3 linked regions of the Homo sapiens genome follow. The protein of the gene in region 2 interacts with the protein of the main gene of each other region in a pairwise test. Each region holds a gene or a part of one and is shown on either strand. Other genes may lie near its edges.

Region 1 (7,053 bases), on a different chromosome or scaffold from region 2:
TGTTTTTTGTAGTGTATGCTTTGAATCATTTCTATTTTTGTGTTGTGCTACTGCTAAAGATTTTTATCTTTGTGGTTACCATGACACTTAGTTAGAATATCTTGTTCTTGTAATAAGCTATTTCAAGCTGACAACAAGTTTAGTTGCAAGCAATAACTCAACAGTTTTACTCCCTCCCTAACATTTTGTTTTTGATGTCAGAATTGATATCATTTTATAATATGATTTATCATTGAAAATTTATTTTAGCTATAGTTGTTATTAATAGTTTTGTGTTTTTACTCTCATATTGGGATAAAATTGTCTTACATCCCATCATCACAGTCCTAAAGTATTCTGAGTATGGCTCTATTTTGCTTATACCATTGAGTGTTGTGCATTCATATGTTTCATGTTATTAGCAGCTTTCTGTTTCCGTTTTTAAAACTTCCTTTTGCAATTTCTGTAAGGCAGGCATAGTGGTAATGAACTCCCTTAATTTTTGTTTGGGAAAGTTTCTATTTCTCCCTCAACTGGGGAAGACAGCTTTGCTAAGGTATTCTTGGTAGGCAGTTTTTTCCTTCAGCACTTTTAATACATCATCACACTGACTCCTGGCCTGCAGGGTTTCTGTTAAGAAATTACAATTGTATTGGCACTCCTTTGTATGTGACGTGTTTCTTACCTTCTGATGCTCTCAGAATTTTTGCTTTGTCTTTGATTTTTGATAGTTTGATTATTATGTGTCTTGGTGTACTCATCTTTGAGTTTAATTTGATTGAATTTGATTAGGAGCAGGTGCACAGGAACTCTCTGTACTTTCTCCTCATTTTTGCTGTAAACCTAAAACTGCTCTAACAGATAAAGTCTATAGATAAATAAATGTGTAAATGGCTATGACTCAACTAAGAGTGCTATCTCTCCACCAGGATTTCTAAGGCTGCTCTGGTGTGCAGCAAGTAGCCTGAAAGGGGATGTAGGATTATCTTCACCCATACACATAAGAAAACTCCTTTAAAAATAAATTTTATTGTGTATATTTGAGGTATACAACATGATGTCATAAGATTCATATATATATATATATATAAATCATATATATATGCATCTCTACTATAGTAACCATTATACTATATATATTACACATAATTTTTACTATATATATACACTCACACTACACAAGCATATATATATAGGTAGAGTTTATATGTATGTATATATATATATACACAAATGGTTATAATAGTGGAGATTACTATATACATATAGTAAAAAGTTTACTAGAGTGGAACAAATTAACATATCCATCATTTCACTTAGTTAACCATTTTCCCTCTGTGGTGAGAACAGCTATAAACTCATTTAGCAACAGTTCTTAATATCATACATTATTATTAACTATAGCTCTCATTTTTTACATTATATCTTTGTAAACAATATAAACTTGTTCACCCTACATATTTGCAACATTGTATGATTTGATCAATATCTCCCCATTTTCTTCCTCCTACCGGACCATGGTAACCATGTTCTATTCTCTGTCTTTCTGTATTTGGACTCCTTTCAATTTTCTCTTGATTTGACTTTGCTCCTGATTCTCTTATACTTTCTTCCTATTTTGCTGAGGCCCTGACCTAGCAGCCAGGGAGAGTAGAGGTGAGACAAAGAAAAAGAGGAGGAGGAAGAGAAGAACGAGGAGATGGTGGAGGAGGAGCCTTGGCTGAGAACAACAGTTATTTATCACAGAAATCTCATAGAGAACAAAAATGACTCTTCTCAGTAACCAACAAAAAGGGAGATTATAATTGAAATGAAAGGATTGGATGATAAAATGTAAAAGCAGTAATAACTTTCTTTGTGGTTTATTTTAGTGGCTTTGAATCAAGCCATTCTGCTCTTCAAAGACACGTGTCTTGTTCATCTCCCCCACCCTTCATCCCCCAACTCCATTTAGAACTATTTGAAGTCCCAGTGAACTAAAATCCTGCAAAGGATGCGGGACCCTTAGAGCCATCAACACACACAAGGGTCCATGCCAGAAAGTGTACCTGTTCTTGTTTTCAAAGTTCTGTTTCATCTCAGCACAGCGGAGATCCATTTCACTGGAGAGCTGGAAACAAAATCAGCATCTACAACACAGGACTGAGGACCCTGTCCCATTCTGATCTGCACCTTCTGAAAAGCCTTCCAATTTATGGGGCACAGCCGCCTTCCAATTCATGGGGCACAGCCCCCTTCCCACCCCTCTTCCACTGTGCTCTGCAGTGCCAGAGAGCACATTATTAATAAGGGAACAGAACAATTTGTGCCTTGCTCTATGTTGTTTTGTACTTATTCAGTTCATAATGTTGGTGCATCTCTTTCACTGACTATTTTTTTTGGGTAGGTCTGGTCTCCTGTGCTAGATCGTCATTTCTGTTACATCATGGCCTTCAGATTTTTGGATATGTAATCCAATTGAGCAATCATTTATTGAACAAAAGGCTTGGCTTGGAAGAGCCAAGGAGGACTAAGACTCAGATCTTGCCTTCGAGGAACTTAAAATCTAGTGTTAATCCTTGTTGACAGTATAGTTCCATTCTAGCAGGCAGGATTTGCTCACTTTCAGGTGATACTTCATTCTAACATGTCAGATCCTCTGGCCAGTGTCTCAGGATAAATCAATACTTCAAATCAGTCGGTGACCACTGTCAGCTAGGACAAGGGTTTAGGGCTTGTCCTTGTACCTCTCTGACTACTGGGGAGAAGCCAGGGACTGTGTCACACAACAAGTGGTCAGCAGAGCCACTCTGACAGACAGAGAACAGCCCAGCGTCAGCCAACACTACTCCCTTCCACAGGGCCACACAACAAATAGCATCTTCACAAGTGGCAGTATTTTCAGTAACACAGTCTAGGATCCCTTCATGGAAATAGTCTCTAAATATGTCTTCAGCAGGATCTGTGCCTATGACTTAAAATGTTCATTTTGTCCAATGATCTACCACTGTTCAGTTGAGAGATTGTATGCAAATTGTTTAACTTCCCTGAGTCTCATTTTCCTTTCTATAGAAGGAGACCATAAACCTGGCAGTGTTTTCAGATAAATAAGGTAATGAATCAATAGTTGGCAGGCGGAGGAGGGTGGTCTCAGGATAGGACCCAGCCTGAGTCATAAGCTGGGTCACTGTAGGATTCAGACACATCTGGGGCATATCAGAGGGTGAGAGGCTGCCTTCTGGGAAGTAAAACTTCACAGATGGGGTGGGGTTCAACAACCCTGGGGAGGATATTTCTGAACACAGCACTGGCTGTCACTCCAGGCCAGGCCAACAGGCACACCTGTTTGAGGTGAGGAAGAAGTCACCAGATGAAACAGATGGTAAAAGCTAAAAAGGTGTCACTGAAATCCTCAGGAATCACAAAGAGTGTCAAATGACATCTGCAGATTCTGATGTGTGGGCAGCTTTAACAGTCAGAGAGTAAGCCCTGCACATTAAGTGCGCTGGTGTCGTTAGTGAGAGCCTCACAAGCTCTGAAACTTAATTGCACCACAAAGGCCAGACAGAAAACAACAAGTGCACCCTAGTGTGAGGAGGACAGTGTCACTGCACACACACAGAGGTACTTGGAGAGCTCCTGGAAATAAATGAGTTAAGCTTTGTGGAAGAACTTGAGTTCTTGGAATTACAGATAAAGATGTCAGAGAAATACTACTGAGTGACACAGTCCAATCTTTAGGGTCCTGTCACCTGGACAACATGGCTCATATGAGTAAAGTGCTTGGCATTTTGCCTGGCACATAGGTGATTCAAAAATATTAATTTTATTTTGTCCATGAAGATGTTAGCTAATGTAAGGTCACTCACCAATTTCTGGGCAGACTGGTGGTCTCTGTTCATTTGTTCAATTATTGCTGTCAGCTCTGAGATTTGCTCTTCTAGGTCAGAAATGATGTTGGTCCTGTAGGAGAAGTAATTCTTCTATCATCCACAAAGCTTACCATTCCATGCCATTCAGGCCCCTGAGCATGACTGACTCTGGCATGGTGAGAGCTGGCCTGGTGAGAGCTGGCCATGTTCTGCACCTGCTCTATCATTATGGGGTGGGGGTGGAGGGATAGGGGTGGTCTTACAGAAGGCATTTGGCTATAGGGCAGTTGAGGCTCAGATCTGGCTCTTGTGGGTAAGCTCACTAGACTTGAACAGGATGGTTTGGTGCCCTACCGAATAGAAGGAAAATAAGAATATGTCAGAAATTTATTAGAGTTTGACCTTGATTTGGTAATGATAGTTGAAACAGAGGACGAAGTTCAGAGGATTAGGAAATTAGAAGATGTGCAATAGGATTGATGCTGGCTGTGAACCACAGACAAGGATTGGGCCAGAGATGGGACTAAGAGGGTATTTAAGAGAGTGGCTTTCAGCACAGGTCATGGTTTTCTGTGTTTCTGGGTCTAAGGCTGCCATGGTATCTGTAAATTATTTAGCTCTGTCTGGTTGGGCTAGAGTGACAAGGCAGCAGGTGGTGCCATGTGCAGTGGAGCTGAGAGGAAGTCCTCAATGCAAGATGCTTTGACCTCTTTGGCCAACCACTTTGCATGTCTAACTGAGCACAGAGAGAATGTGGGCTGATAAAACAAGAGAGGAGATACAGGAGGAGACAGTTCAAGGGTAAGAGAAAGAAAAGGCTTGAGAAAGTTGAATAATAGGGAGCCCCTATCTTTTGAACACAATCTTCAATACAAACAACACCCACAACTTTACCAGGGAATACAACAAGCACAGGTTATCATATTTTATTGTGCACAACTGGTGACAACTTCCTTGTGAGGCCAAGAGGTGGCTGTCGGTGCTAGCTTGACTATAGGTGCATGACCCATTCTCTTCCTGCAGAGGGCTGTGGATAAGCAGGGAAAAGAAAGCAGAGGCTGAATGCCCCTGGGTGGGAAGACAAGATAAGCAGGGTGAATGCCCCTGGCCCCTGGGTGGCCCTCTGGGCCAGGTCAGATCAGGGAGACTCCATGGCATGGCCTCATTCTACTTGAGGGGCCTTCAGACTCACCCTCAACCTGAATCCCTTCCCCAGATGTAACCACTGCTAACGGTTTGGTTGAATTCTGCCAATACACTAGCAGATAGGTAGATGATTGTGTGTGTGTGTGTGTGTGTGTGTGTGTGTGTGTATGTGTGTGTGTGTTTTCTATTGTTGGTCTTTTAGACTTGTGTGTTGAAAAAATAATTCTTACAGCAAAATCAGCCTGAGGGAAGAGGCACTTGGAGAGCCATTCAGTAGTGCAGTTAAGAAGTAAGATGCCTGAACATGGGCAGGATATCAGAGAAGAAGATATGAATAAGAGATTAAAGGGTAGAATGAAAAGATGTAGAGATGAATCTGCATCTGTTAATGAAAAAAGAAAGACATGGAGATATACTTGATATGGCATTGGAGGACAGAGAGTGGGTGGAGCCTGAAGACAGACAGGACAGCTGTGCTAATGGGTTAGAGTCAGGCCAGAACCTTCCACACTGCATCTCCCGGGGGCATGAGCTGAGTAGTATTTTTGGACATAATGAAAAAGAGGCTGGGCGCAGTGGCTCACGCCTATAATCCCAGCACTTTGGGAGGCTGAGGCCAGAGGATTACCTGAGGTCAGGAGTTTGAGAACAGCCTGGCTAATATGGCAAAATCCCATCTCTACTAAAGCTATAAATATTAGCCGGGCGTCATGGTGCAAGCCTGTAATCCTAGCTACTCAAGAGGTTGAGGCGTGAGAATAGCTTAAACCTGGGAGGCAGAAGTTGCAGTGAGCTGAGATCGTGCCACTAAACTCCAGCCTGGGTGGCAGAGAGAGACTCTGTCTCAAAAAAAAAAGTGCACTCCAGCCACCCAGAAACCCTCACTTTACTTAATTTGCATGCCTCAAATTCAGACTAATTTATGGCTATTCTATCTATTCCTCACCCCACGAACAATTGCTATCCTTTGGGATCAATCACATAACTCCCAATCTTCATCCTGCCCCTTGGATCTGCTCACGGATGGGATCAGAGCAGAGAGGCAGATGTGGAGAGATGCATCATCAGGAAGCAGGGGCGAGGAGGGAGGTGCCCTTGCGGCCCCTCCAGAGCAGGGACCAGTGGCCTGGGTGTGGGCATAGCGGCTTTGGCTTGTCCCTGAGGCCGGGCTGAGCTGGGTGGGAGTAGCCCCAAGCAGCTGCATGTTGCTGCAACAGCATTACCTGGAAAATCTGCCTTTGTCCGGGATCTCCGATTCCCACCGCTTTTTCCTATCAAACATCTCATCCCCTAAGGTGACAGAAATCTGTTCCCGATTCCGAACAAGTTGATAGCCAGGTGACACGTTGATCACTTCCTAGGCATCAAGGGAAAGTAAGATAAAATGGCAGACTTGGAGTGCTGAGATTTTTCCAAATCTTCTCTTATTGCCTCACTCACATCTTAAAAACAGGGACCTGGGACTCCACAGCCCAAGCCCTTCTGGGCCCTTCACCCATTATAGCTCATTCTCACATCTCTCCGACTCAAATCTGATGCTTAGCAGGCTCCTGGGTGTCCCTAGGGGCCTCTCAAGCTCTGCGCCAAACCAAGCCACTGATGCCCCTGCCCCCGACTTGTGTTCACCCTCGTGGCCAGAGCCCAGAGGAGGTGGGCATGCGGCAACTGCTCGGGTTTTGGAATCACAGAGGCCTGAGTAAATCTTGGCTCTGCCACCAGACAGTAGCCATCCAGCATCTCTGTGCCTCAGTTTCCTTATCAGAAAGTGGGGTTAATAACTCTTTCTCAAAGGGCTTTTGTGAGGGAAAAACAAAACAACATATGAGAAAATGACTAGGACGGTTGCAAACAAAATGTCATTTCCTCCTCCTTTTCCCATTAGACGCCAAGTCAGAAACCTGGGCAGGGCCTCTGCTGGCCTGGACCAGGGCAAGGCTGGGGCTCTGAGAGCTGCGCAGCACATGCTGCAGCCCCTTGATCCCTGCTGTTGTCACCTCCTTCATGTCTCTGTGAGTCACCCTCCTCTCTCCACACCCCTGCCTGACGGCCCCAGGCCACCATCATCTTTCTCTTGGGC
Region 2 (3,174 bases):
GCAGAAGGCACCACCGGCCACAGACATTTCTGGCTGGCAAAGTGCCACCCCAAGGATCCTGTGACAGGAAAATCACTTGAGCCCAGGAGTTTGAGGCTGCAGCAAGTTATGATTGTGCTACTGCATTCCAGCCTTGGCCATAGAGCAAGATCCTGTCTCTAAAAAAAAAAAGATGATTGACTGACATTTGCAAAATCCTAGCTGAGGAACTGGGGGCAGAAACAGTCCAGTCTGTGTAACCAAGAGAAGTCTCAAATGGTGAGGCATCAAAGAAAGAATTTTAGCCTTACCCTAAAGGGACATGGATTTTTAAAAGGTTGAAAAATAGTGCTTTAGGGATGGTTCCGAGGCCTAAACCCTCAATAAATTGCTTTTTTTTTCTCAAAAAATAAAAATGGCCAAAGTTTTTGGAAACCATAGCATATATCTAATGCCACCAAACCATAAGCAAAACTCATCTGTTCTTTAACATATGCAGTTTGGTTCTTCTACTGACTTGTTTTTATAACACTGACCTACAATTTAAGAAAAAGTATTAGGAATTTAGCTTTTATTCAAAATTAAATAAGCAAAAGCAAAAATTTTAAGAAACTTTTACAAATTACTTACATAAAAGAAAGTTAATAAGGACAGTCACAAATTTGCAACAAATAATTACAAAAGTTTCTAGGGCAGCATGAATATAAACCATGTTGCAGCATGGTGATCTAACTGTGATATGAATAAGGCATAACTAACATTTGCACCGAGACCAGAATTAAAAACAAAAACAAACTTTAAAAGCTTAGTTCTATATTAAACTTCTTCTCTTTTCCCAGATCCTTAATGGGTTTATACTATGCATTTTTTTTTAAAACAAACACATCATGTCAAACTATAAATTACACAAATGGGCAGTTAATGTGAAAAGCCCCCTAAAATGTACAAACTAACTGGTACTGAATTGAGTTCTCCCTTTACCTTTATGTACAATTAAATGTAAACCATATTTTCACAGTTTTGAGTGTTTTATGAATAGATGCACAGTACCATGTCAGGTTTACAATTGTTCCTGAAAACTGGCTCTAGGTTCTGCATCCAATGCCTGTCGGCCACTGTGATGCAAGTATTTACATAAATAAGAAACTGTGTCATAGTCAATGGTCAAGACAGTTCAGCAAGAGCAGTGTTTCCAACAAAGAATGATCCTCAACACGATATTTTACATACTTGTGCAAATATAAGCATTAGGACAGATATATCTGAGGCAAATTCAATTTGCAAAAACTTGTATCGCTACTCTTGTAAACTTGGGCAATAAATGACCCTCGGCAAGTTCTGCTCTCTATGGCTTTTTTGTTTGTTTGTTTTAAAATTTTAAAGCCAGAGAAAATACACACACACTACCCAACCCCCACAAGCACACACGCACGCACACACACACACACACTCTCTCACAGACATAAAGAGTTCTTATTTCATTTTAGAGTATGGTACATAGTGCAACTTCACAATGTAGAGGTTCGACACACATTCAATGCGTGTTTTTCTGTGCAAGTTCTTAGTGGTCTAAATCCTAGTTGAAGGTATTCATTTGCAGAACCACATGATTCAGGAGGTCGAAGGAAAAAGAAAAGTTTCATTAAATTTCTGAAACCAGCACTAGATGTGCAAAGGCAGCAGACAATCTGGCCATCAATGCAGCCAGATTAGGGTCACTTTAAAGGGAGATCCAAAGAGTTAGTTACTTAGATTGGTCTCTAGAAAAATAGGTCAGTATATGCTGTATCTTGGTCAACCGTTCTTTCAAAGACTTCATTGACAAAACCGACAGCTGGTATCGTGGGTCTACAGGGAGAACTGCAAGAAGCCACCAACACCATGCAGGTCCATTAGGGGCTGCCTAAAAACAATGGACAGTTTATAGCATTAATAAAACAAGGATTTATGTAACAACAGTAGCAAACCACCAAAAAATTACTATTTATTGAGCACTTGTACTATGTGCCAGGTGCTATCTCCAATGTCCTTAACAATTATGCAAAGTATAAAATGGGAGAAACTGAAGCTCAGCAATGTAATGCAAATTGTCCAAGATCTCTTGGCTCTTATGTGGCAGAGCCGAGATTCAAATCTAGACCTGACTCCCCACAGTCAACACACGCTCTTTCCTCCTATTACACTAGCAAGGCTTCTCGACCTCAGGCTACTGACACTTTGAGCCAGATAATTCTTTGTTGCATGTGGCTGTCCTATGCACTAGAGCACATTCAGCAGCACCTCTGATCTCTATCCACCAGATGCCAGTAGCACCTTCCCATCCAGCTGTGACAGCCAAAAATGTCTCCAGGTAATGCCAAATATCCTGTGGGGGCAACATGCCCCTAGTTGACAGCCACTTTCTTGAGCTATAGATTTAAAGCATTAAGAAATGTTAATTGAGATTTAAAATTTCCTCAAAGTATTATGGAACCCTTGGAAAGACAGAAGAAAAAGGCCCCAGCTTCCAATGTTGTTCAAAAAAGAAACATATCTCCAGTGAAAAGGTCCTGGTAATGCTGTGAGGGCTGACTATTGGCTATTGAAACAACTAGAAATTTCCATAAAAGGACTTGTAAGCCACCTTCACTGAACCTTAAATTGCTATTTATCGGACTTAAAATATAAAGCTTCAGAATGACAAAAGGAGCTACGACATCAGTGCTGATCTCAGTAGGCCCCTCTAGAATCAGATTCGGTTTCTATATTTGTGTATTGTCCGCTGTCAACTAAGCATTGCTACCTCTTCATCTGCATTCCACAGACATTACAAACTGTCTTCTAAAATCCCCTCTGCCATAGGGTTCCAGGTTAGAGTTGGCCGATGAAAGGCACTCTTGTTGGGTGTGGAAGCTGGAAGAGAAGCCATTATCCTCTGAAGATTGTTGCAAAGTGTGGGCAGGAACTTTCCAGAGAGCTCCTGGAAACCCCTTTCTCCACTGCTGTAGACTGAGACAGTGGTGCAGACTTGCTGGGATTCCTAAGAATTATAGCCACTTCCCCACTAGTTCTTCAGAAGCACGCTGTTGGCTGTTTCTGATGCAGGATCTCTGGTGGCAGATTCCCTGACTTCTGTAGGTGACATCCCTGACCTTCACTCCCACAGCTCTCCCAACTACTATACAAAGTCTACATCCTACGTCAAACCCTTCATTC
Region 3 (7,053 bases), about 13 Mb from region 2:
TGACAAACATCTTTTTTTTTTTGTCCTTAACACAAACAAAGATGCCTCTCGACATTTCACTATTTAAAGATTAGGTCCTTCAAACGTTTTTTTGATGTTAGTCTTTTTCCTGTTTTGCTACTAACCTGACCCTTCATGATAAGACAGAATAAAGGACAGTGAAAGTAACTAAAATGCATATTTGGTAGATTTTGTTACTCGCCCTGATACACAGCTTCATGGAAAAATAAGCTGCAGCTAATGAGTAAAACCCAAATTAGAGTAATTCAATAAATGACTACCAAAAGCAAGATGGTATTAATTCAAAAGACATACAGACACGGGCCTTGGTGGTAAGGAACTTAAAGTTGTTAAAAATTAATAGATTTCATTGTTGGTCTGCATATATCCTCTAACTTCAAATAAACACAGATAACTGTTATAAATACATACATATACATATATATAAATATACACATATATGTAGAGAGAGGGAAAACGCCACTGAGATGTTAACTTCCACAAACTGATGCATACCATGTTTATTTCAAAATATCTGTCAAATACTTCTTGAGCAGTAACATTTTCCCATTCCAGAAATGAGGCTGAATAGATTTCAAGGTTCCTTTCAGCTTTACCTTTACAATTAGCTGAAAATATGAGTCCTGATAAATAAAGTACAGTATATTGAGGAGATCAAGAACTAATTCCAAGATTTAATTTCTTATTAGTTACTAAACCTTTCAAGTCTATGTTTAATAAAGGATATCAAACCTGTAAAACCAAATTCATTTCACTTTCAGACCTTTAGTCTTATATCAACATAATAAATTATCTGTTTTCAAGTAAAAGCTCCAGTAAAAGATAGTTATAATTCCTGTCTCAAAGGCTCTTTGAGACTGTTCAATAGACTAAACATTTAATTTTCTCTTGTAGCCTAAAATGATACTTACGTCAAGCACTGATCCAGAGAGATCAGCTCGTTCAAGATTTGCACAGCAAAGATTTGCATGTGCAAGATTACAGCGGCTTAAATTGGCCATTTTGAAGTTAATGTATCGAAGGTCCAAACGAGAAAGATCAGCACCACTGAAGTTCAAACCCTGAAATAAAAAAGCACAAATTGTCACCATAACTAAATCGTCTGTTTGTATTAAATTTAATTACTATAGCTAACCACCAAGTTTTTTTTAGAAGCAATTGGCAGTTCAGTCACTTGGAGTTTATTACAGAACATGATAAAATGGAACTTAGATACATAAAAGAAGTGTCCTTAAATAGGTTCCTCATAAAAGAAACTCTATCAATATATACATTAGAATATAGCCCGGCTATAATTCATTTCTGTGTAGAAGCTTCTAAAGAGGGATCCCTGTTAGTCCTATACCTGCTAATAAGTATTTAAACCTAATTATATTTAAATTATTTTATTAATTCAGTAATTCAAAACAGTTTATTAGGCAAAAATGAGTACTGTGGTCTTTACAATTTGAAATGCTATAGTACACATAAGTAAAGTACCTGCCACTGATCAGCCCATATATTGCAAATGTACAAATACTGACTTTTAAAAAACTGCTGCAATTTCTATGCATTATTCATAAACTGTTGCATGAGGTATAATTAGACAATTTAAAAAGGCTATTATTGCATCTCTTTTTCGTTAACCATTTCAGAACTAAATCAATGCTATGACTCATAATTAAATTAGATCTTGCATGTAAAAGAAAAACAAAGCAAGATAATCCCAAAACACTAGAAGAATGTAAAATTTTATTCATAGATTTGCTGATAGAAATAATTGATGTAAAAGCCTGCTAATTACCTGGCATCGCAGTTCTGACTTGGTTGGAGTTGCTAGCAAAAATCGGACAAATTCCTTTCGGGATATTGGTGAATGATCCTCCGGTGGTTGAGAATTCTTAAAAAAGACATTAAGAAATTAGTGGAGTCTTTTGGGAGATAGCTACAATGAATGTAACACTGGCTAATGTAAAAACAGGCTTACCTTTATTGCCACTTCTAGGTGTTCAATCAATGAGTCAATACCAAAAAATCTTGCTTCTTCTAACACACCTATCAGAACAAAAATAATTCTGAAACAACCTAATTTAGTGAATGTATTACATTCATTTTGAATTTACTAAAATACGATTAGTTCACATAATCTTAACATTTAATTGCCTTTTTAAATGGAGCAGATCTGAACAGGTTTGCCACAAGTATCTTTTACATACTGAATCAGAAAATGATAGAAATGAATAAAAGTTTAAAAAGTACAAAAAAGTCAAAAGTATAATTCAGAAATCTGTCTTATAGGAGAATAAATTTTAAAATATTTGTAAATACTAAAAGAGCTTTCATTTATCATTTACTTTAACTTGGTAAAAAAAAATGTACATCCTTTACATGACTTGGTATATTTACTTATTCTAATCTGTTAATAAACATCATCAGAATGTGTGGGAATACATTTGGGTTCCATTATCTTTCAAATGAGAAGACCTCAATCAGTTGGCTGTTGACTCAGTAAAAAACTACTTAGAACTCTGGAATTACAAAGAAAGTATCAGACATAATCCCTCCCTTCAAACACTTACAAGCTAATAAGGGTAAGTAGATACAGAAAACCAGAAGCAGTTATTTGGGAAGAATAATACAATCTTTTCTGTGAAGACCAAACTCTATGGTCAACAATCCAATTGTAAAACAAACGTCATCCAAGGTACAGCATCGGGCTACCACTCTGGCATACAGGGTCCACATTTCCCCTTCAAGAGGCATCCAAAGATTATGCCATTCCGTTCGGATATATATCCCTGGTGGAAACTCAACATATTATAAAAGAGGTTCTTGTGGGCCACGCTCTCAATTTGCCAAGGTCTAAGTAAAGCAGAACTCTTAGGGAATGCAGCCAGGATACGTTTCCAATTCTAGGTTTAGAATTAAACCTTTAAAACATCCAGAGAAGCCATAGAAATACAAAAGACAGGCCGGGCTCACACCTGTAATCCCAGCACTTTGGGAGGCTGAGGTGGGTAGATCACTTGAGGTCAGGAGTTCGAGACCAGCCTGGCCAACACATGGTGAAACCCTGTCTCTACTAAAAATACAAAAAATTAGCCAGGCGTGGTGGCAGGTGCCTGTAGTCCCAGCTACTCGGGAAGCTGAGGCAGGAGAATGGCGTGAATCCAGGAGGCGGACCTTACAGTGAGCCGAGATCGCGCCACTGCACTCCAGCCTGGGTGACACAGCAAGACTCCATCTCAAAACAAAAAAAATACAAATATTAGCTGGGCATCATGGTGTGTGCCTGTAATCCCATCTACTTGGGAAGTTGAGGCAGGAGAATCACTTGAACCCAGGAGGCATAGGTTGCAGTGAGCAGAGATCACACCATTGCACTCCAGCCTGGGTGACAGAGCGAGACCCTGTCTCAAAAAAAAAAAAAAAAAAAAAAAAAAAAAAAAAATCTGGATTTGAATCCCAGCTCTGCCACTCACTACTTTTTGGTGTTAGTGAAATTACTGTAGATTGTTTTAAAGCATATAATTACTTGGGGCAACCTGTAGGCAATGTAAAGAGTTTGGATGGAAACTGTACTAACTGAAAACAATGCTTTATAAAATGAATCCAGCAGAGAGCTCTGCTTTTTGAACACTTGAACAAATAAATGGTTGAGAAACATGAAAAAGAAAAAACTAGCAAATCTTGGTAATAGCTTGGTTTGCAGATGTGTGACACAGCATGGATAAATATATTTCTGACATTTTCTAGGCAAGTGGGATACAAAATGCTATCAATAATTTGAAGAAAAATTAAAATGGGAGAAATAGAAAGCAACAAGAATTTAGTTATAAAGTTATAGAACTAGCTAAAAGGGTCAAATAATATCTTTTTTTTTTTTTTTTGCAATAGGTACATGTTCAAGGGAATATAAAGTTTGTTATAGCAACACTAAAAGTTAATGGGTGTTTTGTATTTCACTACAGAAACTGTAAGCCAGCAGTCCTCAGGCTGATTCTGATGTGTTCAGCATGTAATGTTTTCAAAACAAAAACATGTCACATAAAATTTTAGATACCCAGGTTTTCTTTAAAAACCAAGGTTCTGGCACTCTACGTCTGACCACTTTGCACATGGCAATGATCTGCTGAAGCTGACAGGCATGTGACCTCAAGATTGCCAACTGCCTACCATTCCTCAAGTACTAACATCACATCAACTTCAGTCACTTGGAGGCCTATTAGCTTCCAAATATGCAACCAGTGTTTTATAAGGGCTTTGTCTACATCACCTCCGTGAATCTTCACAAAAATCTTGTGATGTAGATAGGGTCAAGAGTGCTTTTAACACTCATTTTTCCAATATGACTCAGAGAAATTTCCCCAAGTTAGTCTCCCTAAGTTAGCAAGTTGTAGAATCAAGACTCTAATTGAGAATTATGATTGCAAGGCATGATTTGCCCTCTTGACTACTCTAGTTCTCACATAATGTGGGGAATATCCAGAACTTGGAGCCAAGTTACATTCTTAATTCAATTTTTAAAAAAGGAAACAACAAAATCCTTTAAAGTCACTTGTGATAGAACGTAAATCAATTTAGAATATAAAGTTGATGCGTATGGCTTACATATTTAGCTATATGTACAAAGACTATCTACCTGAAGGACCACCTGCCCGTGCCTAAATCTATTTCTACACCTATATCACTCATATACATGTGAAAACATCTAGTTTAAAAAATAGAAAAAATATATACTTTTACTTTATGGAAATATACTGTTACTGAGTGAAACAAAGTTAAAATCTTAAACTTACAAAAATGTGAGTAGTTACATAATTATATTGAAAGTCTAAATAAACTCACCCAATAAATTAATGCCATCATTTACAATGAGCTGTCCATGACGCAAGTAGTTCAAAATGGGTTCGAAGTACTCAGGACTTCGGTCAATTAAGAAAGCTCCTCTATGATCTTGCTTATTTCCCCAGACACCTGTGTCACCATTATAATAAAGAAAGTCCCCCATAAACAAAAAATAAAGTCAGAAATGTATGAGGAAAAAATTGCTAAATATAAGTTTTTACTCTTAAAAACTGACATAATTAGTAAGTACAGAAGGTCAGGAGTTATAAAGTCAGCACAGATATAAAACAGGTAAGATGAAATGTGAAAACAACGTGTTACACTCACCTTTGTCCTTAAACATGTGGGCCAGCATACTGTCAGGTTCTTTATTCACTAAAGTGCTCCTAAGAATTCAGGGAAAAAAATTGATTTCTCCATTTGTCTTTATAAACAAACATATTTAAGTCAAGAGTATACTCGATCCCAGCTGCTCTCTCAAAAAGATGCATGCTACAACCTGGTAGGAGTAACGCTGGGAAACAAAAACGTGCAGTAAGTTGCCATTTATCAGATCCCTTCTAATAGGGTACTTCCTTTGATTTAAACATTGTTTTAGTTTCCTTTGCTTTAAATACTTGTCTGTCTATCCTGTAAGCAAATTATTACATAATAATATTCTTGATCTTCCAAACTTACATTTTTCTGCCCTTTAATAAAAGCAGTTGTAGTCTCCACAAATTTCAGTAGTGTTAATTTTTACTTATATTGTGTGTTTATTACTCAATATCTAAAAAGCATGTTTTTTTTTTTTTTTTTGAGAAGGAGTCTCACTCTGTCACCCAGGCTGGAGTGCAGTGGCAGGATCTCGGCTCACTGCAAGCTCCGCCTCCCGGGTTCACGCCATTCTCCTGCCTCAGCCTCCCAAGTAGCTGGGACTACAGGCGCCCGCCACTACGCCCGGCTAATTTTTTGTATTTTTAGTAGAGACGGGGTTTCACCATTTTAGCCGGGATGGTCTCGATCTCCTGACCTCGTGATCCGCCCGCCTCGGCCTCCCAAAGTGCTGGGATTACAGGCGTGAGCCACCGCGCCCAGCCAAAAGCATGTTCTAAAACACTGAAGTGATGCCTTTTATGCTTTCTCTGGAGTGAACCATGTTTTTTTCTTCAAAAAAAGTTATAAAAAATGGTTTCAGATCACATAGTATATTTAAGCAGCATTTGAGTATCTTTTAAGGAAATCAGCAAATTGAAGAACAAAGGGTACACAGTGCTTCTTTTGCATTCTCTTTCTAACACACATACACACACACCTACCGTGTAGTTGTAAAGTACCGCCCTCCAACATTTAATGTCAGCCAGTCTGTGTGGAATCCTAACAATCCCTCAGGAGGCTTAGAATCTGTCTGAGGATCTAGAGATGACATGTAGAAAATAATACAAATATTAAGATTGGGGATTCTGGGAAGATGGTAATGGCATAATTTTTTAAACTGAATACACACATAATAAAAGCATACCAGAGCTACTAGGACAGCAATACCCAAACCCACAGACTGCATCTAAAACAACACTAGGTGATAAGGTAGTCCCACCAATACCAACAGCTATAAGAGCAGCATGCTTTCAGCGCCTGTGAAAGAAAAAGCAGAGAGAAGCAACAGGGTATATGATGAACCCATGAATGTTAAAGCCATCCATAGATACTGACTTCATTGCTTAATAAGTCTAGCTGAAAACAACAGATTGAGATCATCCCAAAAGTGGGTGATGCAAGTAGTTTGCAGTAAGATCTTATAGGGCTGAAAATAAACTCTTAAAACCAAATGGCCAAAACTCCCTTCCATGGACAAAGCCCCATACTGATAAGATGCTGGGAAAATAATCCAAGTTGAATGCAACAAAGACAACAGAGACAAAAAAAAAAAAGGACTGCAGATGAAAGTTAAGAGGTTTAATAGACCAGAATATATCAGAAAATGAGTTCTGTGTATTTTAAACACTTCACAAAAACAACAGAAAAGGGAACTCTAGAGCCATGAAATTGGAAAAACTGTCCTGTCAGCCCTCTTTTCAAGTTAAGAAAAACTAATTTCATATAAAAATGAGCAATACAAAAAGACTGATCAAATGTTAATACAAAAGTGTTAAAATAATAATTGTCCTTATAGATAATGAAAACATGCCAGAAATACCCACAAAATAGATCAAAATTATAATCTAA

What was found.
Region 1: the proteins of LONRF1 (region 2) and FLACC1 interact in binary tests that used the Homo sapiens proteins (3 or more experiments, as listed by UniProt).
Region 3: the proteins of LONRF1 (region 2) and KCTD9 interact in binary tests that used the Homo sapiens proteins (3 or more experiments, as listed by UniProt).

Annotation. Positions count from the first base shown.
Region 1 is NC_000002.12:201,340,343-201,347,395, forward strand, and holds part of FLACC1 (flagellum-associated coiled-coil domain-containing protein 1), read right to left. Parts: intron 6,334-7,053; coding exon 6,200-6,333; intron 3,922-6,199; coding exon 3,828-3,921; intron 2,090-3,827; coding exon 2,028-2,089; intron 1-2,027.
Region 2 is NC_000008.11:12,721,373-12,724,546, forward strand, and holds the end of LONRF1 (LON peptidase N-terminal domain and RING finger protein 1), read right to left. Parts: intron 1,883-3,174; coding exon 1,724-1,882; 3' UTR 534-1,723; downstream 1-533.
Region 3 is NC_000008.11:25,434,431-25,441,483, forward strand, and holds part of KCTD9 (BTB/POZ domain-containing protein KCTD9), read right to left. Parts: intron 6,244-7,053; coding exon 6,147-6,243; intron 5,363-6,146; exon of another isoform or gene 5,235-5,362; coding exon 5,176-5,234; intron 4,978-5,175; coding exon 4,849-4,977; intron 2,056-4,848; coding exon 1,988-2,055; intron 1,901-1,987; coding exon 1,805-1,900; intron 1,083-1,804; coding exon 933-1,082; intron 1-932. UniProt on the Homo sapiens protein: Substrate-specific adapter of a BCR (BTB-CUL3-RBX1) E3 ubiquitin-protein ligase complex, which mediates the ubiquitination of target proteins, leading to their degradation by the proteasome.